4 separate regions of the Homo sapiens genome follow, and regions 1, 3 and 4 are each linked to region 2. Evidence: fine-mapped expression QTL. A gene starts in region 2. Each other region holds a variant in brackets. All regions are shown on one strand. Distances are from middle to middle. Region 1 holds the start of CKMT2 (creatine kinase, mitochondrial 2). Region 2 holds the start of CKMT2-AS1 (CKMT2 antisense RNA 1). Region 3 has its middle 25 kb from the start of ZFYVE16. Region 4 overlaps CKMT2 (creatine kinase, mitochondrial 2).

Region 1 (8,246 bases), 70 kb after region 2:
ACGCAGCCAACCTTAATGGGCACTCTTGGCATTACTGTTCTACTCAGCAAATAGACAGTCCTAGGCAGGAAGGAGATATTTAGAATCCTACTCTGTAAAACAGAGGCCTTTCCTAGGCCTCCTGTGATGAAGGCATGGGACCGTTACCAGACTTTGTCCCTCAAGGGTAAATTGTTTTCAAGAAAACAGGAAGCTAGGAGCCATCTAGTCCTTTGAAGTGCTGTGAAGTGGGCTGCCTTCTTCCCCGCCCAAGGGAGGGAGTCTCTGAGGCTTCCTGGCAAGGGTTAGTGTGACCTCCAGCAGTCACCTTCAGCATGGGTTGCTGCTGGATTCCTGGCTCTGTGGGCAGGAGCTCCCAGAATGCTTGACACAGACTCTACGTGGCTTCCTTTGGGAAGACAAATGGAGCCTGCTGTAGGCTATGGCAGAGATGGAGGCCCAGGGCCTCTGAGCTAGGGGCAAAGTCAGTCTCCCTCCTGTGTCTGAAACCCCAGGACTCCCCATTCTGTATGGTACTCCCCCCGACCCAACCCACAGTTTCCTTAGGAAAACTGACCTGCCTATGGCCCATTTCCTAATGATATGATTTGGTCATGAGGCTGGCAGAGTCCATGGGGTGCATGTGGCACTCCTGTGCTTTGCTGTGACAGTGCCTTAACCCACAGGCGTGATTAACTCCAAAGTCTGGGGTCTTTGGAAAAGGTGCCTATCAATGCAGAGGAAGTGAAGTGCTCAGACCGCCAAACAAGGCCAAGAGCCTCCCGGAAGAGCCTGCCTGTCAGGAAGTCTCTGGCCACATGCTGTGGCCATGCTCGCCTCTATGAGAGGACAGAGAGAACAGACCAAGGACACGAGTTCAGAACAGAGAAAATGTGAGAGCCGTAGACAGGAAAAGCAGCCCTTCTGGAAACAGCACACTGGTGTACCTAGCGTAACCTTGTCCTGAGGGCCACTAACTGCCCCTCACTTGACTCAGCTGACACTGTGAGGGGTCACGAGCCTGGCAACACTTTCTGGAAGGTCTAAAGGGCAGCACTGAGGAGACCTAAAGGTTTTGGTCTGTTTGTCAAATGTCACTCTTCCTCACATTCGGAGGAGAGCATTTGAAGGCAGACCACTCTAGGGGCAAGAACAGGACTGATTTTAACCCCGGGACAACCAACCAAGCAAGCAAGCTAGTGAAGAACAGGCCTCTGCCCAGGTGAAACACGTGGGGCCAATTCCATAGGTTTTTTTTTTTTTTTTTTTTTTTTTAATTAACCTCCGGTGGGAAAGGTAAGGATGGTGGGGAGGGGAGACGGTTACTTGTCTCATTATCAATGTGTTAGTATTAGTGACGGCAAAACTGAATCTCTAGCAATACTATTTGCCCGTTTAAACTGGGCCTGGCTATTGGGCTTATGAGCAAATAGCTTCTCAAAATTTTAATTTTCTAGTTAGTTCATCCCAAGTCACTGATTTACATGTCTTTTGAGACTGAGACTGCTGGGGAAAAACATTCCCAGAAATGAGTGGATTAGACTCTGTGAATTACAAGGGAAAGACACTTTAAGTTTAAAGTTGTCCCAAACTTAGCGTCAAAATACAGCCTTTAGATTTTTTTTTCCATCGAGAAAAATTCCTGATTCACTACCAAAAAGAGGCCCTGCAGGCAGCGTGCTGATTTGTTCTGCTCCTGGTGCTGAGCTGCCCCCACCTGTGTGCAGGGAGGAGGGGTCGCTTCGGCCAAGGGCGGGAGCTCTGCTGGCTTTAGCGAGTCACCATTGCCTCCTCGCAGTCAGCGTCCTAACGGGGTCCCCGTCTACAGCCCGGCATCCACTCCTCCAAGGCCCTTCACACTGGCTCTAGCCATGACCCCTCTTTGGAGGAATAAAGCAGAGTTTCACGGACTCACCGACCTTGAAGCCGGAGCCTCCCACGTCCTGCTGAGCGCACACAGCCAAGAAGTGTATGCAGGGCGAGCTGGTCGGGCCGGCCTGGAAATCCTCCCTGGCGGGGCGGGGCCAGAGGACCTCACCAATCCCAGCGTAGACCTCCGGGCGCACCGGCCCCCACAGCTGTACCCTTGAAGGCAGGCCCGTGGGCGCTGGGCCCTTTATAGCACCTGCCCTTTCTCTGAAACGTAAAAGGCGGAGCCAGTCTTGCTTCCCAGGCCTGGTCCTGGAGGCTCCTTTGCCAGGGCTCTGGATCTCAGAATGGAAGGGCCAGCAGGTGAAATTGCACATCTGTTGGGGGATTTGTTTCTCTCTTCTCTCAGGTGTACCAGCCTTGGGGCCCTGGTGAGCTCTGGAGGATGAACCCCTCAAGCCAAGGTCGGAGAGGAGGATGTCTCAAGCTGCCTGGCTCCAGCAGCTGACCGGGCCCTGAGCCAGGGGCTGGAGGGACCTCCTTCCAGCGTCTTTGTCTGGGACCTGGATCCAGGGACAATTACAGTCAGGTTTCTGTTCAAGATCAGGCCCCCTGCAGTAGATGGCTAGATCATCTCGCTTTCTGTCCACACCAGCTTAACCCACGGCAGGCCATAGCCCTGCTTAAAAATAGCCCCGCTTGGGATATCCACCGCACGCCGGGAAGGCTGCCTGTAAATAGCAATGACCCAGCAGGATTTTGGACAGCAGCCCTGCCATTTCAAGGGAGCCTGCCTAGGCATCTGGTGACCGTCACGTACTCAGCTTCTGAGGCCACGTGGACATGACCAATTGGTTCCTGTCTCTTCCTTCTCAGAGCCCAGCTCATGCTCAGAGGACTTGATGGAGCAAGGGGTGGAGCCCCAGGAATAACCTTCTACCCAGTGTGGTTCTCCTTCATTCTCTGAAGGAGTTTCCATTTCTTTTAAACACGACCCATGTTTAAAAATATCATCTATTTTACCTTTGCATGGGGTACTGACAGGGAGAGCACGTGAGGGGGCCTTTTGGCGGGATGGGAAGTTTCCTGATTGGGGTGGTTATATAAAGATTGGGACCAATCAAATTAATTTCATAATCCTTTAAGGAGTCAAGACCCACCAGCTTGCATATTCTATCATCAGGGCAGTCTCGGTTTATTCCTTCTCAAAATAGCTCTTTTCCACACACACTTGTTTCAAGTCAGTTCAGGCACCAACTGAAATAAATCCATTGACCCTGAAATAGCCCAGCTCCCAGATCCAGAAAATTATAAGGCTTTTAAAGAGCATGGAATTGTAGATTTAAAGAATGGCAGTTATAGCAAAAACCTCCTTTTCCTCCCCAATTGCCTAATCAACATTTAGGGCCCCCTCCACTCACCCGACCTCAACACCTTATATTTTATAGAGTAAATGTTTATGTTAGTAAGGTCAGAAGAAAAATTGGGTCATTGTTGAGAAAAGAGGGTACCACCCTTCTTTTGGGGGACTGGTCCTCTTCAAGCTTATTATAAAGGTGGTGTGATGGGGATGAAATCTCTACAAGGGACTCACAGTAGAAATTCTGGCTTTCTGGAAATCTTTCAAATGCCATCCCTGTCACATGGCATCTATTCCCTTCTCATCGTTACCAACTCCTTTTGAAGCTCTGGGGCTCTAGCCACACCAGGCTGCCCTGTGGCTGGCTTCTGCCATAAGGGCAGGAACAGAATTGAAGTGTGCGACTGCCATATCATTTGCTTTAAAGGAAAATGTCCTGGACTTATTCTCTTTTCTGTTCCTGAGTCCAGCAGGAGTGTGGCTAGAGCAGGCCCCAGATTTGACCTCGAAGGCAAGGATGACGCCTTGTGGGATGAGCAAGTAATAGGATGAAAGGAACCTGGGTTCCTCTGTCGCACCAGCCTGGATTGCTCATTTCAGAATTGGGCAGGAGGGACCCCTTTCCTTAGTCTATTCTTGTGTCCAGCAACTGTAACTTAATTCCATCAGCTCTAAATGTTGCCACAACTTCATAGAAGTTAAAGTATTTTCATATATAGTAATCCATATAACCACTGCAGTTATTTTAGGGGTAGACAGGAGTCTTATTTCAGAAGCCCCTCCTAGGTGGAGCCTGGTGACTATTAGGCCAGGACTCTACCCTGGCGGCTTCTCCTCTCTCCACCACCCATTCAGGAGCGTTGAGCTGCTGTGCAATGGACTGAGCTGTTCCAGGTAGTAGTGAGTTCTCTGTGCCTGGAGGTATCAAATATAGGCTGGGGATGTCACAGGAAGAATCTAAGCACTGCAAAGAAAGTGTGATTAGTTGATCCTTCGTATCATTTCAAAGCTTTCCCCAAATTCTTTGAATTTTAGGGCCTCTTCTAAACTGTTTTTCTCCCTGAACTTTAGAAGTAATATTTAGAAGTAAATAATATATCTGAAGGAGTTCACTGCTATGAAGAAGATGTAAAATAAAAATAAAGCCCCTAGGCCCCCAAGCAAAACAAAACAGACTCATTGTGGTAAAAAGAGACCCCAGGAAACATTAAAAACCAGATTCTACAGCTTTGGCAAGGCAAGAGGTCAGTCACACCCAACGCTCTCCCACCTCGATAACTGCCTCAAGACTTTCTTTCCTAAAATTAAACTAAAACCAGTTACTGAAAAACTATGTCTGGAAGATTTCTTCCTCAACTTCAACAGACAACCTGACGTGGCGAACCCCCCCTTCCCTCAACGCAGTTTCCCCCTGACAAGTGTTCAGCCTTACAAAGCACTCCATCCTCATAACTGACCACAGACCACAGCCGGTTCTGGCC[G/A]GTTTACAGAGATTGCACACCAAGCGTCTTTGTGCCCTGTGTTCCATCTTTTGACATATAGAGCCCAATTTTACTACATTTTAAGTCTCCATCCCAAAGTGAACATGGGTTGTATGTAACATGTAACATATATGATTACTGGCTATGCATGCATTAGGGCCTCTCATAAATATTCATAAGATTATCCTATAACCTACTAAATGTATATGTAAGGCTCATCTTGTTGGGCATAAATCTCAGCCTCTCCCTTTTTTATCTGAAGTGCTTGCTTTTGGCTTTGGCCAGAGGCTCCAGCCTGCAGATTGTAACCCTTTATAAGAAATTAAGTTCTATTTTTTCTAAATGTATACATTTCATGGTTTTAAGTTGACAATGTAGAAAAATGGGGGGAAAAAGAGTTAAATGAAGAAACCAGTGAGATTTCTGAATATTCAAGAAAGGTGAAGTTTAATTTGCATATAGGCATAACCTACACCTCACTTGGCAAGTGTTAGGCCACAGCACAAACCCCTCTGTCCAATCACAAATGTCCACAAATTTGCAAAGTAACTGGACACGAACGATATGCTTCTCAAACTCACACACATATTCGTCCATCACACACACACTCAAATGATAAAGAAATACATTGAAATCCTCTACAAAAGAGATCTGAGGACAGTAATCAGATGACCTCATGTGCGGACAGCACTTTGCAGTTTACAGTCTAATCCATTTGGTCCTCACAATAGCCCTGTGAGATAAGCAGCACAGGGATTACTATTCACACCGTTTTGCAGATGAGGAAACTGAGGCTCAGGGATGTGTAAACACCAGCCTAAGGTTTTCCAGTTGGAGACTGGGCCTAGGACTCAGGGCCGGGATGCCTAGGCCAGCTCTCTTTCATAACTGGCTTTCTAGTGAAAAATGAAATGAGCTGTGTAAAAACCAACATCATTAAGTATAATAGAACTATTATTTTCCTTGAGCAGATCAGACTAGTGCTATCAATCCTAATGTTAATGTCATGCTGCATGGCAGCTGAGATGAATAATTTTCTGAATCGTTCATGTGTTTATACCTACAACAAAATGACTGTTTTCCATTTTGGCTCTGCCTCATCTTAATTTTAAGTCACCAATGGCCGCTGAGAAATGACACACTGATTAGATTTCATTGACTTAAGTCTTCTATTACACGGTGGTATCTATAATGGAGCCATTAAACTTACAATCTGATTTCTTACTGAAATGAAAAAGAGTTTTATTTATTGATTCCCTCTGTGCACATTAGCCTGGCTATACCCTTCAGCCATAAATAGTATGTTCTCTTTTATGCCTTTTCGATAGTTGTAAAAATAATACATTTTGCAATTGGATTTTTAAAAACCTTTATACTTTAAAGTGAAGAGATTTTTTTTCAAGGGGATAAAATCAAACTTTGAAAAAAAAAAGCTAAGTAAAATCTCTTGCTTTTAAATAAAAGTTAATTTTATTGGGAATAATCCCTGTATTGCATTACTCTTTTCAGTTAAGAATTTAAAAGCTGCCCAATCGCTGCTGGCCCAAAAGTCTCGTCTTATACAATAACATGAGAGAAAGGGTGCTGATCCATCATTATTCACTCCACATGGGACCATAATGGATTTTTCTCTTCCAGGTGATTCAGTTTCTCTGAGTTTCATTTGTTTATAAGTAGTACTTTAAGACGTACTGAAATTTAACAAACAGTAATGGGACTTGGTATGAGAGCCACTTGAAAATATTGCAATGGCCGTTTAAAATTCCGTCTTTAAATTCCTTCAGAAAAGCACTAAGGAAAAGTGACGACGTTTTACTTCATGCCTGAATCTGTCAAATAATATATTGGATTAGGTAAGAGATTTGTCCCTGTAGCAAAACTAGATGTCTCAGTTAATAACGAAAAGGCATCCCCTAAAAGCTCCAAGATAATTTCGTTGACAGTACAAAATGTGGGCATTCATTCGAAAGCATGAAATTGGATTTTTCTTCTGATTTTCTAGGTTAATTTTACAGTATACATGTTCGCTACTTGGCTGTTAGAGGTTGACCTCCCATCTCCTCTTAGAAATGGGTCTCCATAATGGACTAGAGGCAGATGCAGCTGGGAATGCATGCTTTGTGTGTAGGCAGAAGAGGATGGGTACTTTAACGACCAGAAAAAACACTGCAAATTGCTCTTGGGGATTTTTAATTTGACCAAATTGAAGGGATTTTAAAATGTGCATTCCTCTCCCAGCTGGCACACGAATAGTGCAGGTCATCAACAGACACTCCCTCAGAGGTGGAGCTCTCTCTCTTGCCCTCTTGCAGCTCCAGGAAGGCTGCAGACTCCAGAAAGTGGTGTAATTCTCAAACAAAAATGCGAAAGGCTAGTGAGTGGCACACCCCTGCAGTCCCAGCTGCTTGAGAGGCTGAGGCAGGAAGATTGCTTGAGTCCAGGAGTTCGAGACCAGCCTGGGCAACATGGTGAGACCCTGTTTTTCAAACAAACAAAAACCCCCTAAAAGTCAGCATAGCAATTGACAGTGCCTAATATGACCAGTGCGGGGCAGTTCCAACATCCTGCAGGAAATAGGCGCAAAAGCTTTGTCACTAGTTGAAGAAAAGCTGCGATCCAAAAGGGAAGGAGCATTTGGAAACTCCTGTCTTATTTTTTGTTAATAAGAATGGCTGCAGTGTCTCTGGAACATTTGGGTCAAAGAAATGAGTCCGAACTTCCAGAAAAAGTGCACACAGAACCATCCCTTTCCCTCTGAAGGACTCTGGCAACTCCAAGGCAGAGTAGAATGCATGCACCTTTCCACGTGTTGTTTGGCCCGAAACTAGTATGTGTGTGGTCCTCTCACAGATTTGTCCCGGTTTTAGTTCACCCTTCAGGACTATGCTTTTGAGCCATGAAAGCTAACCTTTACTTTTCTTCTGCAAGACCTTGAGGTGTTTGGTGCAACTGATACATATTATTTCAAACCCTCAGTTTCTGGAGCACTGAGAAATAAATCACAAGTTATGCGTTGTTAGGATCCAAACAGCCCATGCTTCTCATCATGCATCAAGATGCGTCAACCTCTTATTTGAAACTAAAGAGAACAAACAAGCAACTTTAAAAAAGAAAAAGAAAGCATCCATAAGGAACCCTCCTTGGGTTGAGTGCTACACTGTTGGCTAATATGAACTATTGAAAATATTTTGGGAATGGTCTTCAAATATTATATTTTCTTTTACTTAGTTGATATTTCACTATATAGTTACATACAGAGATGGCACTTACCGTGCAGAAAGTGTACATTCTCTACCTCTATGGTGCATTACCAATGCTAGCTCTTTCACTGAGTCTTAAGAGCCAGCAGGTGGAATTTATTAGTCTGTTAGCTCTAGCAACATAATTAAAGTGCAAGGAAAGAGGGAAAGCAGCCAGACAGATCCATTTTTCATTGTCAGCATCAATAAGTTTCATGCTGCTAAGAGAAAATGTCAGGTGCAACAGGTTCAGGGAAATAGAACTATATTTTTTCTCTTCCTTCTTTTAAAGCAGCAGTCTCCCTGAGAAGAGAAGAG
Region 2 (8,246 bases):
CCCATGATGTTGCAGGCAAGGGTCTCTTGTTATATGTGGTACTAACTCGGGCCCACCTGGTCATAATTTCATCAGTGGTACCTTATCAATTTTTAAGACAAGCATGGGTGGTTAGCCATCAACAACAAAAACAACAAAACTAAAGAGACATGCTATATCACTATATGTCACATATGCCCATATGTTAAACTTTTAATTATTAAAACACTTTTTATTTCAGTTAGATATCTGTATACATATTTAATGCTATAATATGCTGCATAGACATGCTTCTAACATAAATCTACCACTTACCAGAAAAGCTGCCACACCAGTTAAAAAAGGTGTGCTTAAAATTGAAAAACTATCTTAAGAAACCAAATTATTTCATAAAATATAAATCAGATAGTAATACAATGAATGCAATTATTCCTCCCACATTCTGCAGTTTTCCCGGCTGTTTATTTTCCTATCTCCAAGTCCCACAGCTACTTTCTCCCAATCTTCTTGCTTCGTCTGCCATTTCAATGCAACAATTTGCATAGCAGATTACTAAGTATACAGAAATCATGTCCTTTAATATGAAGTTTGTTGAAATTTCCTGGCAAAGTTATAAGTAAAACATATAAAAGTGTTTACCATCACAGGATGATCCCGGGCTTCCTCTTACTAATCAAGGTATAAGCTACTTCCAGCCCAGTGATTTCACATCATCTTCAATTCTATTTAAATTATGACTTGAATCATAAGATATATTTCACACCAAAATCTGTATCTTGTTTTTATACTCTTAATACATATGCTTTAATATTCAGAAATAACTTTTCATTTTAGAGCACATACATAAAGAAGTAATTTATCCTAACACTAATGATTTGGCTCCAACATAAAATGGAAAAAAGTTTTGGTCACTTACATACTACCTAGTGATTTGGAGGATATTTTTTTCCTGCAATGAATGAGAACATTCAGCCATAATCAAAGATTCATCAGCTAGTCACATGCTACATAACATTTAGGTCAACAGCGACTGCACACATGATACTGGTCTCAGATGATTATAATGGAGCTGAAAAATTCCTATTGACTTTGTAGCCCTCATAACTTGTAGTGTAACACATTACTCATGTCTGTGGTAATGCTGGTGTAAACAAACCTGGGATGCCAGTCATATACAAGCATAATGCTTACAATGATGTACTGTACATAATACTAGACAATTATAAGTATTCCAGAAAAAAGCAGTTATTATAGGAGATGACAGCTCCATTCATGTTACTGCCCCTGAAAACCTTCCAGTAGGACAAGATGTGGAGGAAGAAAAGAGTGATATTGATGCTCCTGACCCGGTGTAGGCACAATGTGTGTGTCTTAGTTTATAACAACAAAAAAAATTTTTACAGGAAAAAGCTATAGAATAATGTAAGGGAATAAAGAAAATATTTTTATATAGCTATACAACACATTAGCATTTTAAGCTAAGTGTTATTACAAAAGAGTGGGCCGGGTATGGTGGCTCACGCCTGTAATCCCAGCACTTTGGGAGGCCAAGGCCAGGTGGATCACAAGGTCAGGATATCGAGACCATCCTGGCCAACATGGTCAAACCCCATCTCTACTAAAAATACAAAAATTAGCTGGGCGTGGTGGCGCACTCTTGTAGTCCCAGCTACAGGCGCGCACCACCTGGGAAGCTGAGGCAGGAGAATCGCTTGAACTCAAGAGGTGGACGTTGCAGTGAGCTGAGATTGCGCCACTGCACTCCAGCCTGGGTGACAAGAGCAAAACTCTGTCTCAAAAATGAGAGACAGAGAGAATAAACTCCGTCTCAAAAAAAAAAAAAAAAGGTCAAGGAGTTAAAATTAATTTAAAAGTTTATAAAGTTAAAAAAGCACAGTAAGCTAAGGTTATTACCTTATTTTTAATAAACTTAGACTAAGCATACCGCATTTATAAAGTCTACAGTAGTGTACAGTAATACCCTAAATAATATCGTAGGCCTTCACACTCACATACCACTCACTGACTCACTTAATAGCTACCGACAGCCCTGCAAGCTCCATGCGTAAGTGCCCTATTCAGCTGTACCATGTTTTCTTTTACACTATATTTTTACAGTATCTTTTCTGTGTTTAGATACACACCATCCTTTTACAACTGCCTACAGTATTTAGTAGTTATACTGTACAGGTCTGTAGACTAGGAGTAACAGGCTATCCCATACGGCCCAGCTGTGTAGGTTTGTGCAAGTACACTATGATGTTCACACAACCACGAAACGGCCCAACCATTTCTCATAACTATACCAGTTCTTAAGGGGAGCATGGCTGTATTAAGCCACCACCTTTTTTGTTGTTGTTGTGGTCGTTGTTGAGACGGAGTCTCACTCTGTAGCCCAACCTGGAGTGCAGTGGGCGATCTTGGCTCACTGCAACCTCTGCCGCCAGGGCTCAAGCGATTCTCGGGCCTCAGCCTCCCGAATAGCTGGGATTACAGGCGCGTGCCACCACGCCCAGCTAATTTTTTGTATTTTAGTAGAGAAGGGGTTTCACCATGTTGCCCAGGGTGGTCTCGAACTCCTGAGCTCAGGAGATCTGCCCGCCTCGACCTCCCAAAGTGCTGGGATTACAGGCGTGAGCCACCGCGCCCGGCCTAAATTATCACCTTTTAAGACCAGCATCCCTGGCAACCCCCCAAGTCTCAGCTCCTAGTAACAGAAAGACCCCTTCCACAGAAGCTGAAGGGTGGACCCAATGAATTGGTGTGAGAAACTCCATGCCACTTTACCAGCGCACTCTTCGCTGAAGTTTATGCGACTGTCATAGTGGGGACCGAAGCTGTTCAAAAGGAAGTAGATTATCCTTCCCCTACGTACGTGGGAAGGGGGAGGCTCTGGGTTATCAAGAGGGTGAAGTGGGAGAGCCAAGCGGCCCACCCACAGGCGGATTCCAGGGCGGCTGGACGCACAGCCCCCAGCAGCCGGAGCCCAACAGCTGAGGTCGCCGCCCCTAGACAGCCCGCGCTCCAGCCAGCTCAGGGACCCAGCGGCTAAGCCTTCTGTCCTCCCAGCTTCCCACGCAAGTTCCGCCAGGCCAGAGGGAACGAACGACGAGACCCTGCAGCTTTGGTGGCTGAGAACCTCACCTCACCGCGCTACCGCGCAGCTTCTTACCGCGCACGAATCCCCCAGAGCAGCCGAGTTGGCGAGCCGGGGAAGACCGCCCTCCTGCGGTATTGGAGACCGGAAGCACATAGTGCCCGAGAGCGCGTCACTTCCGGCGTCACAGACGGTCTTTACAAGCGACTCGTGGGCGTCAATACTGGGCTGAGTTTGTGGCGCGCTTAGTGATGGGATGGCCCTGTGCAGGACGCCGACACGAAAAGATGAAGAGTTCAATCCGTGCTGTCTGAACTCACAGTGTAGCAGGCGAGATAGACGGGAAGATCGGTAGGGTGGGAGATGCCGGAAAGGCTTCCCGTGAGACTGGATAAGAAATCAAAAATCTGGTGAAATTGCCGGCAAGAGGGAGTTAAGGACATTCCAGGCAGAGGCAAGGTAAAGGCGCGGTGGGAGTGGGTCACTGTGATAAAAGTCTGAAAAGGACATTTGGGGGCTCTCTTGGGTGAGAGGCAGTGCCTCATGTCCCCCCTTCAGTGCTCGTTGAGCATTCAATTAAAATGTTAACACTTTGTAGCCAAACAAGTTCTCTTTTTAAGAGGAAAACCCTGGATTTCCAAACGGCTCATTTTCTGTAGCTTCTTGCAAATGGATACCACCACCAGCTGTGCCTAGTGAAAAAATGCAATTTACCAGGACCACTACTCTCAACAGTTTGCTCAATCCATTTAACCTTTTGAATATTTGTCCACTTCTTTTTATCTCTGTTGGCACCTCCTCCCTTGTCCCATATTGTACCTGTAGTTCTACAACTGGTCTGGGGATTCATTCTGCCCCAACTCCCTGAAATCCATTTTCCGTGTCGTAGGAACGGAACTTTTGAAAATGTAAATCATTACATTTAAAGCAGTACTGCTGTACTGCTTTAAACTCTCCCTTCGCTTCCCATTGTTTTAGGATGAAATTCGAACTCCTTATGAAGTCCCTGCCTACTTCCCTAGCCTCACCTTGCTCAGTCTCTCCTTTGAGCTCCGTGCATAGGATCATTTTTTCAATTTCTCAAATGCCGTGTGTACCTTGCCATCTCCAGGCCTTTACATTTGCTAGTCTCTTTGTATGGTACTCCTTTTCTTCTTCCAGTTACTTTCTACTCACCCTTCAAGGCTTTAAGTATTTTATTCTCAAGAAAGCCTTCCAGCCCCCTACCCCCATACTAGACCAATCCCCTACTGTGTGCTCACGGCAGTCTATACTTTCTTATGACACGGTTCACATTTGTAATTACACAATAATTGTGTAAGTTTATTGTATCCTCATTGCCTGGTACATCCTTGGTGCTCACTGCGTATTTGTTTTTTTGTTTTGTTTTGTTTTGTTTTTTGAGAAGGAGTTTGGCTCTTGTCGCCCAGGCTGGAGTGCAATGGCGCGATCTCGGCTCACTGCAACCTCTGCGTCCCGGGTTCAAGCGATTCTTCTGCCTCAGCCGCCCAAGTAGCTGAGATTACAGGCGCCCGCCACCGCGCCCGGCTAGATTTTGTATTTTTAGTAGTGATGGGATATCGCCATGTTGGCCAGGTTGGTCTCAAACTCCTGAGTTAGGCGATCCGCCCACCTCTTCCCTCCAAAGTGCTGGGATTACAGGCGTGAGCCACCGCGCCTGGCCCTCGTATTTGTTAAGTAAATGAAGAATAAGTACTTTGCGATGTTTGTTTAAAGCAAACTAGAAAGTGGCCCAGTTTTCTTTAAGAGAAGGGATTTTAAAGTCAGTGCTTGTAGGAATGTTGAGATTTGGTATGGTACATATCACAAATACCGTAGTTCATATGGTGGAGAAAGTTTTAAAAGACAACAAACAAACAACAGCAACTTCCAGCTCTTGAAGATAGGGAACTTCCTAAAAGATGTGTGGTAGTGCTGCCCATACTGTAATGATCTCAACCAGCTGGTTTCAGGGTAGTGACATTTCATGAAGAGGTTTTATCTTTGGTAGATGCAAGGTACTTACACATAACATACCACTAGAGGGCGCATTTAACTAAAACTTTTCTTTTTAGTGGTATATTGCATTTTAAACTGTAGGTCGTTCATTCTTGGAAGCAAAGGAACATACCGATTTCTTTTTGTAGCGGTATGTCCAATAAAGATTAGTAGTTGAGCAAATAGGGCGTAGAATAAGTCCTTTGGAATTCGGAGGAAACTATTGCTACTAATAGCTAACTTTACTGAACATTTTATAGGTGCCAGCAGTATGCTTAATGGTTTGCATTCGTTACCTAATTAGTCCACTCAGTATTCTGTGAGGTTGGTACTATTATTTTCTCCATTTTGCAATGAGGGAATAAATTCACAGAGCTGACGTAACTTATCCAAGGTCAGACAGCTAATAAGAGGTAGAGTCAGGATTTGAACCAAGATCTCAATCCAAACCTGTGTGCTCTGCTACTTTGAAATACTGCAGAGGATTGTTTGTCTACTTGATCCACTTTAAAACACTTTACTAAGTTATCCTTGCCCAAATTCGATTTTTTTTTTTTGGAAAGTATTTACTTTTACAGTTCAAGGGATTATGTTTGTATTCAGTTTTCCCATCTACTTATTGAAATACTGTAAATGTATTTTTTATAACAATATTATCAGGAAGGTAAATGTTAAATAAGGAATTCTGGTCGTCTTCTCAATTTTCCTGCTGCTGTTTCTTTTCCAGTCCTCAAATTGCTGATTTATAGCTTGATTCACTGGCAGAGACAGTGGAGTGTGCTTATTCCATATTACCAGGAATTGAAACCACTACCATTAGAATTTTAAATCTTCATTCTTGCCCAGATTCTCTCTGAATATTAGGCGCTTGGCCACCCTAGATGAAGTGACCAATAGGTGATGAGGACTAGAAGTGTCCAAGGCCCAGCCTGGGTGGACCATCCCTCTAACTGACTCACACATTAGAGTGAACAGCCTCCAGGCAGCCAGTTTACCTATAGAGCAATTTGGAACGGAGAACAGTGAATCTGGAAAGGAAGGCTGGGATGAGATTTTGCCAAATTAAAGTGTTTTTAAATGTGAAATTATAGTGTTCAAACTTTATCCATTAGAGCTTAAGCAATGAACAACTGTGGATAGTGTTTTAGATCATACAGGAGATCCCATAAAATAGATCTGGAGAAGAGGATTGTGTGGAAAACTGTACCTAATGCATTCTCCGGGCAGTTATTGAACTTTTTTATAGTATGCAGAAAAATACAGCAGAAGAGAGAGGAAAAAAATTAATGACCCTGCTGTTGGAAATAAAAATAAGATCCAGACCAGTGACATTCTGACATCTTAAAAACCTGTCAGTGATATTTTTAGCTGCTTTAGGATCCTTACAATAAGGCCCATGAGTAATAGGATTGTGAGGGTTTTTTTCTTTATACATAATTTTACAGATATTCTTTAATGGGTGTGTATTACATTTAGAATCATTATTAAAGAGTTATTTTTAATCCATGGGAGTTTTGACACAGCACATGAGAATTTCTAATTATAGACTCATAGAAATACATACCTCTTAAAACCCTATCTTCTTGTTTTACAGATCAATAAATTAAGTTTCAGAGAAGTTAAGTGATTGCCATAGAACACAATGCTAGTGACTGAATTTTGTTAACTAACATGCTTTCATTTGCATTGTTGGTTTTCTCAGTAACAAAATTACAAGCAATACTGCTTTATTTCAGAAGTGAAAGAAAATCTATTGGAAGTGTGGAGCAAGAGAAACCTATTAGTGGAAGTTACTTGAGGTTCCTAGGCAATAAGGAATAGGAATAATATAAAGTTTGTGTTACCCTCTGAAAAAGCTTGAATCTCTTTCATCTTCTTTGCTTAAACGTGATAAAGAATAGTGTTGGAACACTAATCACAAAAATGATGTATCCTTCTGACTCATCTTACCATCTTGTTGTATTTCTCAAATTTGAGTTCCTAATCATGTGTTTCGGTGGTTAGGATGTTAAGTGCTTCAAATGAATACTTAAACCTAAATTACAAACAAGTGGCAAGATTTGCAAGCTCTCCTTTATTCTCTGAAATGCGTACTTCCTCCTCCTTATGTCTGAGGAAATCATACCAGATACGGGCCTTAGACTGTCCATTCCAAGGAACAATGAGAGGTCTTGCAGTTACAAATGGAATTCTGTAAAATAGGATAGGTGAGGAAAAAGCACTTTTTGATGTCTACTATTTGCCAGTACCTTAAGTGCTAAATATATACAAATGACAGAGAGGTCCCTGCCCTTAAGCAGCCAAGAGCCTGTGAGAGTAAGACAGATTGCTAAACCACTAATAAGCTGATGTTATAATTAGTGAGGGAATTATGGTGATATAGAGATTACAGATAAAATATTTCTTCCTGGGAAGTTTTAAGAAAAACTTCACAGTAGAATGTGTTGCAGACAACTGGAGAGAGGGATCAGGGAGGTGAGGAGGAGGAGTCAGTAAAAAATAAATACATGTACTCGATCTAAAATCCTCTCCAATAAGCTGAAATGCTTTTGCAGATAAGACTGACACACGCTGACATATACACAAAAAAGAGATAAAAATTTATGCTAGTACTTCATAAAAGGTCAAAGTGAACATAACCAAGTGGCAAAAATATTTCGTACTGATTTAGTAACTACTATATAAAATAATCTACCAGTAAGTCTGGGTAAAAACAGTACAGTAATTAATGATTTCAGATGAACTAATTTAAGAGGACCACATACGAGGAAAAACATAACCTGCCCAAAACTATGGCATAGCAAATAAATGATCATAGGAAAAGAGGTCCCACAAATATTTAAGAAACATTTATGGACCAAGAAGATGTAGAAAGTCACATTTACATATATTCCGGAAGATGTGAGAGTCTAATGGTGAGCTCTATGAAGATGAATTGGACACAGTTCATACCCCCAGAGGAATCTGGTAAAGAAGACAAACAGGGCCAGGCGCGGTGGCTCACTTCTTTAATCCCAGCACTTTGGGAGGACGAGGCAGGCGGATCACCTGAGGTCAGGAGTTCGAGACCAGCCTGGACAACATGATGAAACCTCGTCTCTAGTAAAAATACAAAAAAAAAAAAAAAAAAAAAAGCCAAGCGTGGAGGCAGGCACCTGTAATCCCAGCTACT
Region 3 (8,246 bases), 920 kb after region 2:
TAAGGCTCTCATCAGTTTTTTGTCTCAGATTTTTATTATTAATTTATCTATTTGAGACAGGGTCTGCCTCTGTCACCCAGACTGGAGTGCAGTTGTGTGATCTCAGCTCACTGCAACCTCTGCCTCCCAGGCTCAAGCCATCTTCCCACCTCCGCCTCCCAAGGAGCTGGGACTACATATGCGCGCCACCACACCTGGCTAATTTTTGTATTTTTGGTTGAGACAGGATTTCACCATGTTGCCCAGGCTGGTCTGGAACTCCTGGGCTCAAGCAATCCTCCCACCTTGGCCTCCCAAAGTGCTTGGATTATAGGCATGAGCCACTGCACCAGGCTTGTCTCTCATTTTTAAAGATTAGCTGATACTTCTTCCTTCTTGAAACCCTCTCTTCAATTGGATTCCATGACACCACATTTTTTGCGAAGCTCTTTGTAAATTTCCTGTGTGAGCTTTTCCTCCATCAGAACACAAAATGACAGATCTCCTCAGGGCTCAGTTCTAAGGCCTGCCCCTCTCCACCACCACACCTAGATGACTTAATCTACTGCAGGCTGCAATTATCACCATGTGCTGAAGATTCCCATGTCCCTTTTCTGAGCAACGGACCTTTATATTCAACTAATTGCTGACAATTTTTACTTACATTTCTCATGATAACGTGTTATAATACTTAGCACAGTGTCTGTTACATAATAGAATCTCAATAAGTATTAGCTAATTGACAAATATACTTACACAGTACCATTAAAAAGATAGACATATAGAATTCCCTTTCGTTTTTGAACTTAGCATTTTTGTGTATGTTGTATAACCTAATAATGTTGTGTCCTGTGGGAGAAACAAAAGAACTAAAATTTCCCATATTACAATTTTAAATTATTATCTTTCTCACCCAACCAGTTTTTCTCCAGTGTCCACTGTATTTGTGAACTGTACTCACTTATTTGCTCAAGACAGAAATTTGGGAGTCACCCACTTTGCCTCCTTTTCCCAAACCACTACCCACCCGCCACAGACACACACAGACACACAGACACACACACTCTCTTATTCACATGCCGATGAAGTTTCTTCTAAACATGTCTCCAATCAATCCTCAAAGCATCAGCCCCCAACCCTCTTGATTTATTGGGGGCTATGTGATCTGATTTCTTAGCCATCATCCTCTCCCTGACCCCAGCTTCTCACTATAGCCAGGGTGGCTTCCATGTTCTGCAAACAGGTCAGTCTCTTCATAGTCTCACAGTCTTTGCTCTTCCCTCGACTTGGAATGTTCTTCCCCATCTTCCCCCACTTTCTCTAGGCTTTTAATCAAAAAGTCCTTCCTTAGTGAGACTTTCCTGATTATGTTATCTAAAAATTTAACACCTGGCACTTAACATCTCCCTTTCCAACTAATTTTTTGTTACCTTAGACCATCCCATATCTTTTACCTGCTTATCTTGTTTGATATCATCTTAATAGAAAATAAGCTCCATAAAAGCAGGATTTTTTAGAGTCAGGCTCTCACTCTGCTGCCCAGCTTGGGGTGCAGTGGAGCAATCATGGTTCACTGTAACCTCAAACTCCTGGGCTCAAGTGATCCTTCTGCCTCAGCCTCCTGAGTAGCTAGGACTACAGGTGTGTGCTACCATGCCCAGGTACAGCAGGATATACATATATATATATATATATATATATATATAACATATATATATAAAACATATATATGTTATATGTGGATACATATATATGTATTTATATGTGTGTGTGTATATATACTTATTTATTTATTTTGAGCTAGAGTCTCACTCTGTCTGTGGCCCAATCTCGGCCCACTGCAAACTATGAACTACTTTCATAGTTGATAGATCAAGGAAAGCAGGTTTAAGTGTGTTTGAATTTGGCAGTGCCATTAATAGACGATTTGAGAATAAGTAACCACATTGTCAGGGCTAGGGGAAGGGGTAAAGGCAGAAGTTTGTGCTGGGGGTATGTAAGTAAGAAAAAGTCTTATCTAACGCATCATCAAGTTAAAAGACAATGTCTAAACTTGATGTATCAAGATATAATGTATAAGTGCATTATTTATAAATATGAAGGTTACTAACAAGAACTGACACTGCGAAAGAGTTGGGTAGAATAGCTTCCAATTGGAAAAAATGGGGCAGAGGACTGTTCATTTCTATTATAAATGTTATTGTACTCCATTGCCTTATTTACAAAACGGATATAATAATAGTACTTACTTCATATGGTTGTGAGGATTATAAGATAATTTCCATGAAAGGCTAAAAACAATACTTGGAACAAATAAAAACTCAATCGCTATTAACTATTATTACTAATACTTTTAAAGTTACTTAACGTACACATACATTATTTTGGTTAAACTTTTTTTTTAATTTTACAAAAGTGAGGAGTTGACATCACTGAGCAAAGATTACTGTTTACAGAATCTAGCTAGATTGGATTTTTTTAGGTTAGTTTCCTAAATTCAGTTAGTTTTAGTTTAGTTAAGATTAGAAAAACAAGTTTATAATGTAAGGGGTTGATGGGTAAGATCTGGTGAAGTGCAAGAGGCTTAAGGTTTACAAATTAAAATATATAATTGATAAAATAAGATCATGCAGGAGGCAAAAGAAGTTGAATTTTAAAGTTGATGGAGTATTTTCGTTTCTTTTAAAAAAGTATCCCACTATACTGTGACATCTTTGAGATCAGTGTCTTACTTATCTTGTCAGTCACCTAGGATATGTCATAGTACCTAAGACAGAGTTGGCATACTCTGTTTATGAATGAACAAGTGTGAAAAATAAGAATGAATCTAGATGTCCTCTTTTGAGTGGAGTTAGCTGAATTGTGGTATTCATAATAAAAATAATAAGAGTAATAGGTTTGATTTGGGAAGAAGACGATGAGTCCATATTTGGAGATGTTGAGTTTTGAGTTGCCTGTGGAGATATCCAACAGAGATTTAGAAGTTTGAGCAGAGGTCAGGAGATAGATTTGGGATCCATGAGCATATAGGTAGGAGTCAAAACTCAGGATTTAATTGTGTAGGATTCTTAGTTACAAACAACAGAAACCACACTGGATATTTTAAAAGGAGAAAAGAAATTTACCAAAAAGATATTAAATATCACAAATAATTTTCAAGAGGGCTGGAGAACTAGCCTCAGGTCACAGAGAGAAATAGGATCCAAAATCCTGCCATAGAACTGATATGGTATTACTGTCACTAGATATTGGAGATTGATTGCAGCCCTGTTGCCAATGGTGTCCCAGGAATTTACCTTTCCACAACCTCTGTCTCTTGGAAGCCCTTATGATTGCTATTCCACGTTGAGTGTATATGATTGATAGTCTTGGTTATACACTTTTATCCTGTCCTAGCTATAAAGAAAACTGAGAAAGATAATTCCTAGCTTATTTTTTTTCTTTGAGGGAGAAGTCAAACATTACCTTCTACCAAAGTTTATAAGATAGAGAAATTATCTGAATATGGGAAAAGGATCCAGCTACTAGCCATGATAACAAAGTTTTACTATAGAGGATATAGAATGGAAGAAGAGAGTCAAAGATGTAACCCTAGGGGAAGACCAACATTTACATGGTGGACAGAAAGAGAACCCAACAGAAATCACAGAAGGACAAAAGGACTAGGTTGAGAATTAGGAGAGCTAGTTATCATGAAAGTCAAGGAGGAAGAGATTTACAAAGGTCAACATTGTCAAAAGGAGCAAAGAGGTCAAATAAGATAGAGCTGTCGGAAATTTTCTTAAGATCAGTTGCAGTGAATAGACTGGGGGTAAAGGAGGAAAATTCAAAGATTGAGGAGAGAATGGAGGTAAACAAGTAAAGTCAGGTAGGAACCAGTCTTTAGAAACTTTGGTTACGCAGGAAGAGGAAAGCCAGGATCTAAAAGAAAATGAGTAAAATAATTAAGTTATGTGAAATAGGAAGGCCTTTTGGCAGTGAAGGCCAATTTAGTTAAACGTATTAAGTTTGAGATGTTGGCAAGGTTGCGGATAGGCAGACAAAAACTTGTTTGAAGCATAGGTAAGAGAAGTCAAAAAAGGATCTTTAGCTCAGAACTGAAGGTTATTTGCATAGTAGTCTTAA[T/C]TGAAACTTAGACAGTGGAAGCGCTGAGAGAGCAGAAAAGGAAGAGGAAAGGCCTGAAACAGAAAAGTGCCTAGTTAGGATGTGGGTGCAGAATAAAGGAGCAGAGAGGAAAATGGTAGGTGAACTTGGCACCTGTAGTGCTATGGTTTCAATGTTTGTGTCCCTCCAAAAATCACATTGGAACCGAAGACCCAACACAATATACTAAGAGGTGAGGCCTTCAGGAGGTGATTAGGCCCTTATAAAAGCTTGAAGGAGTGAGTTTGTCCCTTTTTAGCCCTTCTGTCCCTTCTGCCATGTGAGAACACAGTTTTCATCCCCTCCAGGGGACACAGCGACAAGATGCCATCTTGGAAGCAGACAGCAAACCCTGGCGACACTGAACATGCTGGTACCTTGATCTCGGACTTTAGGACTGTGCAAAATACATTTCTATTATTTATAAATTGCCCAGTTTAAGATATTTTGTTATAGCAAGAGGAATGGACTAAGACACAGGGTGACTCTGAAAGGGTGGGCTGAAAGGGCTTTGGGAGAAAGGAGTGACCCTCTGGGACCAGGGAAAGTCTAAGAGATAGTCACATTTTGGCATATGCTTGTAGGAAATCTGTTTCAATCCATTGATCTACCAGTACCATGCTGCTGAAATTAATAAAGATTTATAGTAGATTTGTACATTTTTAATGTCTAGTTTGGCTTATTTTCCATAATTCAATGGATAATTTTTATACAGCAGATGCTATTTGTCAAGCATTCAGTTTATACAAGTGCCAATTACATATCTGTCTGTTTAGCACAACCACAAAATAAATGGTTTACATCAATTATTGTATTAATAGTACCCAAATGCAATCTCATCTAAGTAACTTCTAGTATAACTGCTAACAATATATAATTAACATAATTATAATGCTATGTATATAGCAATATTCCCATAATGTATCAAAAGATTGCTAGCTTCTTTTCTGTAAATCTGGCACAGAATTAAAATTATGTAGCCTAATATTCAGCACCAATATCATGAAAATGACTAAGAAGTGCCTGACTGTACTTAGCATTCTGCGTAAGTTCTAGGCTATATAATATTAATGACTTTGACAAGAAAAAGAGCTGTAAAGTAATATATTTCTTGTATACTTCTGCCAAGATATAAACTTCTGGCAAAGTCCAACTATCATAGTTTTTTGGGTTGAAGTTAAAAAAAAAACAACTATTATTCCTAAACTTTGCATAACAAATTAGAATATACACACAAAAGAAAGGAAATTAAAAGAAATACATCTTAAATATCAATTGCTTCTGCTTAACAACTGGTTATTGTCATTTCTTAAAGGACCACACTTACAGATTCTATTTTTCCTTAGTCAATCTGTTTCCTTTTTAAAATATTTAGTTTGTTAAGTAGATTTTCAAGATTCTTTCTAAATCATGTAATGTCCAGAGTTTTAGAATGTTGGCCAGTAAACACTTGATATACTTTTTTTTTTTGAGACAGGATCTCACTCTGTTGCCCAAACTGGAGGGCAGTGGCTCCATCTCGGCTCACTGCAATCTCTACCTCCCAGGTCCCAGTGATTCTCCAGCCTCGGTTACCTAAGTAGCTGGGACTACAGGCACATACCACCACACCCGGCTAATATTTATTTGTTTGTTTTTTTGTTTGTTTATTGTATTTTTAGTAGAGACAGGGTTTCACCATGTTGGCCAGTCTGGTCTCAAACTCCTGACCTCAAGTGATCTGCCCAGCTCAGCCTCCCAAATTGCTAGGATTACAGGTGTGAGCCACCACGCCCGGCCAACACGTCATACAACTTTTAAATACAATTTGCAAATGAAATTTTTCTTTTTATTTATTTATTGTTTTGGAAATGGAGTCTCACTGTTGCCCAGGCTGGAGTACAGTGGCATGATCTTGGCTTACTGCAGCCTCTGCCTCCTGGGTTCAAGTGATTCTCCTGCCTCAGTCACCTAAGTACCTGGGACTACAGGTGTGTGCCACTACACCCAGATAATTTTTTGTATTTTCAGTAGAGATGGGGTTTCACCATGTTGGCCAGGCTGGTCTTGAACTCCTGACCTCAAACGATCCTCCTGCCTCAGCCTCCCAAAATGCTGGGATTACAGGCATGAGCCACCATGCCCGGCCTGCAAACAAAATATTTCTATACACAATACCAACATATCTTTTGTAGAGTGTTTTTCCATGAGGTTTGATTACATAAGCTAATCCTGAAAATTAGAAATACCCAGAAAACAGGCAACTTCTCAATTTATGTTGACATTCAGTCTTTCTTAAAGGACTTGATATAAACATCTTTAATTCTGACATGAATTGGATTTTTGTCTAAGTAGCCAACTCATGATAACAAAAGATGGCATTTTAACAAGTATTTTTATGCAGTTTGACATAAGGGATTTTGGATTAAACCAATGCAGCCCTTGGGAGTAAAAATTTGGGAATTTGAATAAACAAGATCACGTAAAACATAGCATTTTGAAGTTTTATGGCAGTGGTTTTTGAATGAAAAACTTTTCCTTGAACAATTTCTTTATTCTGTGTTGCAGTAGCTTTTTTTCCCTTCTGTGCCTGAGCAAGTGATTAACTTGCCTTTGATTAGCTAAAGGCACTTCTTTATTATTCATCAAAATGCGCAGAAATTTAAAAATGTGTGAACTTATCAGTAAACCATAAACCATACAACCATACTGAGAAAAAAGTTATTATAGCTATTATTATACCCTATAATTGTAATTTTAATCTTTTGTCCCTTAAACTGTCAATCAATATAAATAATTAGGTGTCTACTGTTTCCCAGACATATTCTGTACATATCATTTAGGATTTATTTATTTATTTATTTAGAGAGGGACTCTGGTTCTGTTGACCAGGCTGGAGTGCAATGGCACAATCTCAGCTCATTTTAACTTCCGCCTCCTAGGTTCAAGCGATTCTCCTGCCTCAGCCTCCTGAGTAGCTGGGATTACAGGTGTGCACCACCACACCCAGCTAATTTCATTGAGAATTTAGAAAACAAACTAATGGTACTATTTCTTAGTGTTTTAAATTAGAACATATCTTGCCTCATGAAGCTTTAAATTATTATTTTCAGTTTCTCCCCATGAAGCGCTCTCGTCTGACATTTGTTTGGAATCGTACCACTGCCGGTCTGCACCAGATGTACCGTCCTTTCAAATATGATTTTCTGTTGTACCTTGTAGTGAATTCTGCAAATCATCTTCCCCACCTAAAAATGTCTGAATGCTAACACGAATAAATTATATAACATGCAAAAATGTATAAATAAATAAAAAAGAAACAACATCTTTTTTTTTTTTTGGAGATAAAGTCTTGCTGTCACCCATGCTGGAGTGCAGTGGTGCAATCAGAACTCACTGCAGCCTCAAACTCCCTGGTTCAAGCCATCGTCCCACCTCAGCGTCCTGAGTAGCTGGAACTACAGGCATGCACCTCCATGCCAGGCTAATTTTTTTTTTTAACTTTTCTGTAGAGACAGAGTCTTGCTCTGTTGCCAGGGCTGCTCTTGAACTCCCAGCGATCCTCCCACCTCAGCCTCCCAAAGTGCTGGGATTACAGACATGAGCCACCACTCCCAGTCTTCTTTTATTATTTTAAATAAATATTCACATTTGTAATTATATATTTTTAAAAGAAAACCTTCCAAATTATTTCAGCTTCAGGCCCCATAAAATCTGATCATCCCTGAAAAATAGATAGGAATGAACTAATATTAATTCATTGCTGAATTGATGAGAAAACTTTTAGTAAAGGTAAGACAAGTAGCACAAGGTAAAGAAAAAAGCAAGAATTTTAGGGCAGAGCTTGTAAATGCAAAGGCCTATTGGCAGGACCTAGTGCAAAATAAAAATTTGTGACTCCTTGATCAAGAATTTTAATGAATTTCAAATAGTGATAGCAGAACATTAATTCAAGCACAAGTATCTTCTAAGCATGCGCGCCGGTAGGACTGTCCATGACCCACATGCATGAAGCCAGCCTGTGGGCACCATTAGGTAATACAAGCAAGAAAACCTCCAACTAAAAAGGCGTGGGTCCTACCTAAAGGACCCTCCGTGACTTAGCTTGAGTGACAGTTGTCAGGTCAGGCCCAGTGTTGCCACCT
Region 4 (8,246 bases), 61 kb after region 2:
TGCATTACAGTAAGGAACTTTACCTCACTTGGCTTGTGACTTCTGTTAGTGAAAAGTGGCCTGCTGGCCTATGCTGTGGAGGACTTGCAGAAAACTTCCCAGTCACCGGCAGACGGTTGACATCTCCCCTGGTTCCTCCCCAACCCGTTTAGTGTGAAACGGGACAAAGGGAAACATTTCCTTTGATCTATTTTTGGGGAAAGAGGCAAATGTCAACTAAATAAGATCATATTAGGGACTGGGCATGGTGGCTTATGCCTGTAATCCCAGCACTTTGGGAGGCCAAGGTGGGCGGATCACCTGAGGTCAGGAGTTAGAGACCAGCCTAGCCAACATGGCGAAACCCTGTCTCTACTAAAAATACAAAAAATATTAGCCAGGTGTGGTAGCACGCGCCTGTAATCCCAGCCACTCGGGAGGCTGAGGCACGAGAATCACTTGAACCCAGGAGGCGGAGGTTGCAGTGAGGCGAGATCACACCACTGCACTCCAGCAGCCTGGGTGATAGAGACTTGACTCAAAAAAAAAAAAATCCTATTAGGAATTTCATGAAAGCTCACACAGTTCTTGCACACATCATTCAAGGCCTGTTATGGGGGCCCAGAACATCAGGACACAGTAGCTAGCCTCACATTCAGCTCCATTGCACTAGAGCTTTGCATGATCTCAATTTGAAAAACACACATGTATATCCTACATTTGTATCTCTATTCTAATATTATATACTGTATATGACTTTTTAAAATATTGGTTTGCTGTTTCTATTTTGTGCTAATGCAACAAATCTAATTTGTTTTAGAAACAGTTATTACTGTTTCTTGCTTCTTATCACCCCCTACCGTTTGGACTCTGTTGTCCATCTTTCTCTGCCTAATTGGACCACAGCCTGGTGCCTCAATCCCCACAAAATCTGTTCCCTTCTAGCTCAAGATGACTGCATTCTCTCTCAGTTCGCAGTGTACTCATGGGCTGCTCATTCATCTGCCCTTGTGCTCTGTGCCTTTTTGGCATCTGCGGGTAAACTCAGTGCCACATATCTCTATTCTGTTCACTCCTAATGTTTGTATTGTCTTCCCAAGGGACCTCTCTTATGGCCCTGCTGGGCTCCTCCCCTTACCCACATGTGCCAAGCATAGAAATCAAGGCAACATTCTCAGTCCCTTTAAGGGAAGTTCCAGGTACCTAGCTAGTCCTACAGCCAGCAATTAGGGAAGTTAACGAATAACCTGCTAAACAAGAAGATAATAATTTAAAAGCCACTCAAGTAAGTCAGAGTCACAAAATGTTTGATTCCCTGTAGAAACTAAAGATAGCATCTTGACCTATTCCCTTGCATTGCTTTTCAGAAAACAATTCCCACACCAGATGGAAAATGCTGACCACTGTCATAGAACTCAGACAGACTGAAACCAAAAAATAGATATGGAAGTTCCAGAAATTCCCTAGCTCTTAACTCATTTTGGATACCCCCTCACTCCTGCTTTAAAAACCCTTGCTTATAAGCCAGCAGGGAGCTCAGGTGTTAAGTGCTAGGTACCCATTCTTCTTGCTTGGCACCCAGCAATAAACGCCTTTTTCTCACTACAAATCTCAGCGTCAATGTTTGGCTTTTTTGGCATGCTGGGCAACCAGAACCAACCCCATCTTTGTGTGCCTGCATCCAATTCTGATGAGCCTATGTATGTCAGGTTGGTCAAGGCCCTTTGTGCTGAACACCAAATCAACCTAATTAAGGTTGATGACAAGAAACTAGGGGAATGAGTAGGCGACCTCTGTAAAATTGACAGAGAGGGGAAACCCTGTAAAGTGGTTGGTTGCAGTTGTGTAGTAGTTAAGGACTATGGCAAGGAGTCTCAGCCCAAGGATGTCATCAAAGAGTACTTCAAATGCAAGAAATGAACAAACCTTTGTCTCACAAAAAAAAAGCCCACAAACTTTTGAATGAAATCTACTTATATGATGTGACACACATTTCTTTCAGACATGGATTTTGAAATCCTATCAATAAAAGCCACCAAGTGAGACACTCAGTTCTGGTTTTGAGCATGTACCTGCTCCGTTTCCTGGTATCTGCAAATTAGGGTGGCCCAGTGCAGGCTCCTGACCGTTTGACCATGACAGGCTGTCTGAACCCTGGGAGCTCATCGTGCCCATCGTCAGAGATGTCCGTATGTGACACAGCAGAGACTACCCCACAGATAACAGACGAAAGCCAGCAGAGTACAAGGCCTAAATGTGCATGTCCTTCTGTTTCCTTTTTTTTTTTTTTAGGGGTTCTGACTGAGCAGGCAGATTGGAAAGGAAGAATCAGATGAGGAGCAAGTGCTAGGTGTTGGGGAAACAATTTAAATTTCCTCCCACCCCAGAAATTCCTCTCCATAAAATATAGGAAAAAGAAAATATTTTATTATTGAATAAACATTAAACTAGTGATGCACATCTTTAGCATTCTGCTAAGGAGATTGCAAAGACAGACATCCCACCCTTTTATGTGGGCAAGCAAATAGGACCCATTCATTACATACATGTTCTCGAACTAAAGTAAGAGGACTTGACAGCACCATTTGTCAAGCATAATTCATCCTAAATTCACCTGGTGACCATTTGTGTTCGCTAATTGCCTTTATCAAAAGGAAAAATAAAACTCAAGTTTCTAGGACAGCAGGTAGTTTTACAACTTGGAGCCAGGTGCTTAAATGAAACTACTACCCACTGCCCTCCCACTGACAGTGGGAGGTAGGGAGCTATCTTCCTTGATGTCTGTATTTTCAAAGAGATGGTTTCCAGGCCCTTGCAGGAAAAGAGTCCTAGGTTGTAAAATCGACTGGAGCCTTACTTAGCTTTTAAAAAGATTTATATACATTTCAAAGGGGCAGCAAAATATAAGTTTTCTAAAGGAAATGCTCTAAGAAAAAGGAGGAAGCTCTTCCCCTTTTTGCATGGGCTTGTGGGGTAACTTACATTCTGGAATTCACGAGGAGCAGGAATTGGTTTCCTCCCTCCACGTGCTGGAAGGCACAGTGTAAGAAGCTTGGCAAGGCTCCAGTCGGGTGGACAATCACTGGGAATTCCACGCATCAAAGGGACAAGGGACAATCACTGGGTCCATCCTTTACTTCAGAGGGACAAGACCCAATGAATGTAGAACTGGGCCACAGTTTGTCTTGGTTCTTAAGCACGCTGGCCCACACATGATAGGTTATCATTAAATGTCTGATGAGTAAGTGAATGAATGTCAGGAACCTGAGAGGCTTTAGAGGTCATTTACCTCAGCTGAAATTCAGGCATCCCTTTCCCTCAGCCCTCCTTAAATACCAGCAGTCCTGGGGATCCCACCACTTGCCACAGCAACCCATTTTACTGTTGGATAACTGTAATTATTATAACATTTTTAATATCTGAATAAGGAGAGAAAACAAAATTCGAGTGCTTTCAAGGGCAGGGTACTTTTTTCAAAACAATCCCAAGAAGTAGGTATCCCATGTCACAGAGGAGGGAACTCAAAAACAGAGACATTAACTAACAGCCCAAGGTCACACAGCTAAAGGGAAATCATATGTATCGAGTGTCTGTTCTGCACCAGGCACTCATTTAAATAAAGATCCTTTCACTCACAATAGTTTACCATACAAATATTACAGCATGTCTAGATGGGGTCTTAACCATACCAAAGTACTGTATTGCATGCCTCCATCTGCCCTGGGACTAGGACCAGGTCACACACTGCAAAGGATTTGAGTGGAAACGATGAATAGACCCCTGCACACCCATGTGCATCAATGGAGGACTGTGGATGCCGTGTGCCCCCATTCCTCTGGGCCATTGTCATTAACCCTTTGTCTCCCAAGGAATGGAGCTGCCAGAGAGTTCCAGCTGCCTCAGATCCTCCCTGGTCTCTCAGGTATGCTGAGTGTTTTCCCTTAAGCAGGGTTTCCATAGGCTGATGCCGAGGGGAGGCTAAGTATGGGGCCAAAATGCCCACAGCACACAGGTGTCACTCCAGGCAGCACTGAGGGGAAGCAGAACCAGGGGATGGCTCTTGGGGCCTTCCTTCGCAGGAACACCACTCACTACAGGCTTCCAGGCGGTCAGCGGGTCATGTGAGTCAAGGGCAAGTGGGTGAATGACACTGATATGTTTCAGGTAGGGAGAAGCCATGGTGGGCAGCATTGGAGGGAGGGGAAAGAGGGGGTGAGGAGGGGGTAGAGATATGTATTTGTCTACTTATTCATCTGATGACTATTTACCTACTATGTGGCAGCTTTTCCAGAGTCCTTAGTCTGAGGAAAAAAACGCTGTGTGCTCGTGTTATTCCCATTTTACAAGTGAGCAGATGCAGGGAGAGAAAGGCAAAATAACTCACCCAGGACCACATGGTTTGTGAGTGGCAGCGCTGGGATTCTGGCCAGCAGTCATAGTCCACACTCTTAACCACGGCCCTCTGCTGGGCAACTAGAAATTGTGTGTGATTTGTGCTCTACTTGGGGAGCCAGAGCCTGTTGGGGGGTCCTGGGAGGGCATGGTTGGCTATGGGACAGACCATTCAACGATGTTGTTTGAGGAGCCTTGTCAGGTCTTAAGCATACCAAAGTACTGTATTGCATGCCTCCACCTGCCCTGGGACTAGGACAGGTCACACCCTGCAAAGGATTCGAGTGGAAACGATGAATAGACCCCTGCACACCCATGTGCATCAGTGGAGGACTGTGGATGCCACGTGCCCCCACTCCTCCCTCCCCAAAGCTGCTTTCCAGGCATCTTCCAGGTGGGGAAATGGCCATTCCCCTCAGCCCAGAGCAGACTTAGCCTGCCCTTGAATGCTGCCAAAAAAAAGAAAGGGCTAAATGTGTCCCCTGTTCTATTCCTAGTCCAGATTCCTAAGATGAGGACACAGCATCCTGGGCCACTGTCACTAATACAAATTTGCCTCTGGAGGGACTCTACGGAAGATAATTCCCCTGAAATTTGGAGAGTTGAATTAAGCTAGGACTGATTCTGGCTGGAATTTGTGGTGGCTACGTACCCTAGAGGGCCTCAAGGAAACCCACGGTTCAAGACAGCCCTGACAGATTCTGGAGTCTAGAA[C/T]AGAAATGGATTTGAACATGGGCAAGGCCAACCACCCAGTTCACGGCCTGTGTACAGCAAAGATTACGTTACAGCCTGAGAGCTAAGCCTGGAAGCTCTTTCATCCATCCGTTTGTCCATCTATCCATCCATCTGCTCATCCATCCCTCCATCTGCTCAACAAACGTTAGAGAATCAATCCTTGTGTCAGATACTGGGGCTGCCCTCAAGGAGCTTTTATAGAGTTCAGGGTACAGCCAGGTGGGGGAGACAGATCACTATAAAAACCTACCACTATAATCCAAAGGACAAGAGCAAAAATAGTAAAGAGGAGAGAAGACCCAAATTTGCCTGGTGGGTCAGAGAGGGCTTTCTAGAAGAGGTAAAAAATCTTCGGGGCTATCACTTCACCTTGCCTGGTGGATAAAGGGAGGACTTTCCAGATACAGTGGACAGAATGTGCAGAGGCAGGAGCCATGAGTGGCAGAGGCAGGGGAGGGACTGCAGAGACAGGTTGGAGCCAAAGCACGTGGCACTGGAGCCATAGCCAAAGGAACAAACTGTGAGACCTGGGACTTGAATTTGGAGGTGGTGAAAAGTGACAAGGTCTTCACAGAAGAGTGATTTTTTCAACTTAGGGAAGGCTGACCCCAGACCAATGCTGCCAAAGTGTGGTCTGTGGGCTGTTAGCAGTTCGTGACGATGTAAGTACAGGAATTGAGATTAAGCATTTAGAACACCTACAGCACTTTGATAGTCATTTTACTTTTTAAATTTTGAGCTGGCATTTTATATGCCTGGTTTTTTTTTGTTTTTGTTTTTTTATTTTTTTTGAGACAGTCTCGCTCTGTCGCCCAGGCTGGAGTGCAGTGGCGCGATCTCTGCTCACTGCAAGCTCCGCCTCCCGGGTTCACGCCATTCTCCTGCCTCATCCTCCCAAGTAGCTGGGACTGCAGGCGCCTGCCGCCTCGCCCAGCTAATTTTTTGTATTTTTAATAGAGACGGGGTTTCACCATGTTAGCCAGGATGGTCTCAATCTCCTGATCTCGTGATCTGCCCGCCTTGGCCTCCCAAAATGCTGGGATTACAGGTGTGAGCCACCACGCCCAGCCTTATTCTCTTTTTCTAATAGTTGCACTTTATCATATTTTACAAATGTGTGAGTCTGCTATGGATTAGAAATTAATAAGAGATTTTGCCACAGATAGTTTGAGAAGCCCAGCACTGCCACTCAACAAATGCTGGTGCATTCAGATGGTGAAATATTCTGCAGCTATTAAAGGAGTTAAAACTGCCTCCACTTACCTGGAGGCCCATCTGTGACACCTTTTTAGGTTAAAAGGAAAAGAAAAACTTGCTTAGGACTGAATATGAGCGGTTGCAATTTGTAACAATGATGTATATATACATATACATTTTCATGTATTTGTATGAACATAAAAGTATTGAAGGATATTCATCAAACTGCTAAAAGGGTTGCTTCAGAGTAACGGACTCGGAGAAGGCAGATTAATTTTCTCTTAATGGAACTCTGTATTGTATCACTTGTAAAAATAAGCATGTGTTATCTTTATGATAAAAAAGTAAAAACCTAAAAAAGAAAATTTTGATGTGTGTTAAAATTTTGGATTTCTAGGCTCCACCTTTTTTGAATGAGTCTCTCCAAGAGTGGGGCCCTCACATGTATAATGAGAAAAAGCTCCCCGATTACAGGATGTTACCAAGCCCCGCTAGGTGTAGGAACCCTGCTTGGTACCCACCCGAGCCTCAGCAGCTCCTCCCCATCATGGGCATGATGAGGTCTCCCTGTGAGGTGTTGTGAAGACGACGGGACAGGCTGCAGTAGGCACTGAATAAATGAGTCCCTTCCCCTGATGACCCTAAGGCTATGGGATCATCATCACTCCCTCCCCAAAGCCACACCTGATTATTCCAGCCAGCACTCGGCCTGCCCCTTTTCTGAATGCTTTTTGATTTTAACTTACATTTTTCGCATTTAAATGTTTCATTTAATTTGAGAAAGAGTCTCGCTCTGTCACCCAGGCTGGAGTGCAGTGGTGCGATCTCAGCTCACTGCAGTCTCCACCTCCTGGGTTCAAGCAATTCTCCTGCCTCAGCCTCCCAAGTAGCTGGGATTACAGGCGCCCACCACCACATGTGGCTAATTTTGTACTTTTAGTAGAGATGGGATTTTGCCATGTTGGCCGGGCTGGTCTCGAACTCCTGACCTCAAGTGATCCACCTGCCTCAGCCTCCCAAAGTGCTGGGATTAGAGGTGTGAACCACCACAGCTGCCTTCTTTTAATTTGTATTTTCTATCTCTGCGGACAAGACTTCAAAGGTGTCTATCACATACTTTCAGATCTACTGATCATCCTCTGAAAACCAACATCGGGGTTCACAAAATGGATTTAACCAATTGGGCTCCCCAGTTCTTCTTCCAGACTCCACCCCTCCAACAGTGTCTCCAATGACTTCCTGGCATCACTGAACAGGTCCTTCACTTTGCCACCTCTGAGCCTTTGCTTGAGTGTTTTCTTTCCCCTGGAATATCCTTTCCAACCCTATACACCGACTGAGTCAAACCTTCTGTCTTCTTTTTGAGCATTTATGAGCTCCTATCATGAGCCATGCATTATGTAAGGGACCTTACAAACACAATCAGTCTATGTAACAATCCTGCCAAGTATGCTTTATTTTGGGCATGGGGAAACAGAGGCTCAAGAGAAGTGACCTGCCCCAGGTTTCAGTGCCAGCACACTAGTAGAGCTGGGATTTGAACCCAGGTTTGTCTTTTGCACTGGATTCAGCTTCCTTGCAGACCGCAGCACCTCACATACAGCCCTTCACTGACCAGCAATTGGAGGGAAACCACCCCTGTGGCTTAAAACCTGTGGTGCCACAGATCATTCCACTCAGTCAAACCCCCAAGACCGTAGAAGTGCATTTAACACAGCAGCTCCTAGGCACAGGATTGTCACCTCAGGGCATATGACTTCTAAAGTTGCAGATTATAAACTTGTTCTCTTTCCCTGTCCTCAGGCTCCCGCTGAAGTAACCCAGACGCCAGGGATATCTCTGCCCGCTCCACTCTGACTCTAGTGCTCAATGTGCCTGCCAGGCCTTGCTAGGGATGCTGTGCCAGTGTGAAGAGGAAGGTGGTCTCCAGCTCTCACCCCATA

Evidence for each region. PIP is the estimated chance that this variant, and not a neighbour inherited with it, causes the effect.
Region 1: its variant is fine-mapped to the expression of CKMT2-AS1 in whole blood (INTERVAL, PIP above 0.99).
Region 3: its variant is fine-mapped to the expression of CKMT2-AS1 in kidney cortex (GTEx, PIP 0.94).
Region 4: its variant is fine-mapped to the expression of CKMT2-AS1 in whole blood (TOPMed, PIP above 0.99).

Annotation. Positions count from the first base shown.
Region 1 is chr5:81,227,030-81,235,275 of GRCh38, reverse strand. It overlaps RASGRF2 (Ras protein specific guanine nucleotide releasing factor 2), which reads right to left. Exons shown (of 27, transcript NM_006909.3): 27 at 5,114-8,246. CKMT2 (creatine kinase, mitochondrial 2) reads right to left here and starts at 1,954. Exons shown (of 10, transcript NM_001099735.2): 1 at 1,899-1,954. The variant G/A (reference allele first, on the strand shown) is at 4,690.
Region 2 is chr5:81,296,576-81,304,821 of GRCh38, reverse strand. It overlaps CKMT2-AS1 (CKMT2 antisense RNA 1), which reads left to right and starts at 3,253. Exons shown (of 2, transcript NR_034123.1): 1 at 3,253-3,535. ZCCHC9 (zinc finger CCHC-type containing 9) reads right to left here and starts at 3,235. Exons shown (of 6, transcript NM_001131035.2): 1 at 3,124-3,235; 2 at 1-81. The coding sequence starts at 64. RefSeq lists enhancers at 1,927-2,716, 2,724-2,903, 3,054-3,153, 2,717-3,506.
Region 3 is chr5:80,378,577-80,386,822 of GRCh38, reverse strand. No RefSeq gene overlaps it. Among named protein-coding and RNA genes, the nearest start is that of ZFYVE16, 25 kb to the left of the region's middle. The variant T/C (reference allele first, on the strand shown) is at 4,105.
Region 4 is chr5:81,235,983-81,244,228 of GRCh38, reverse strand. All of the region lies in intron 1 of CKMT2 (creatine kinase, mitochondrial 2), which reads right to left. It overlaps CKMT2-AS1 (CKMT2 antisense RNA 1), which reads left to right. Exons shown (of 2, transcript NR_034123.1): 2 at 4,874-6,664. Among named protein-coding and RNA genes, the nearest start is that of CKMT2, 6.8 kb to the right of the region's middle. The variant C/T (reference allele first, on the strand shown) is at 5,086.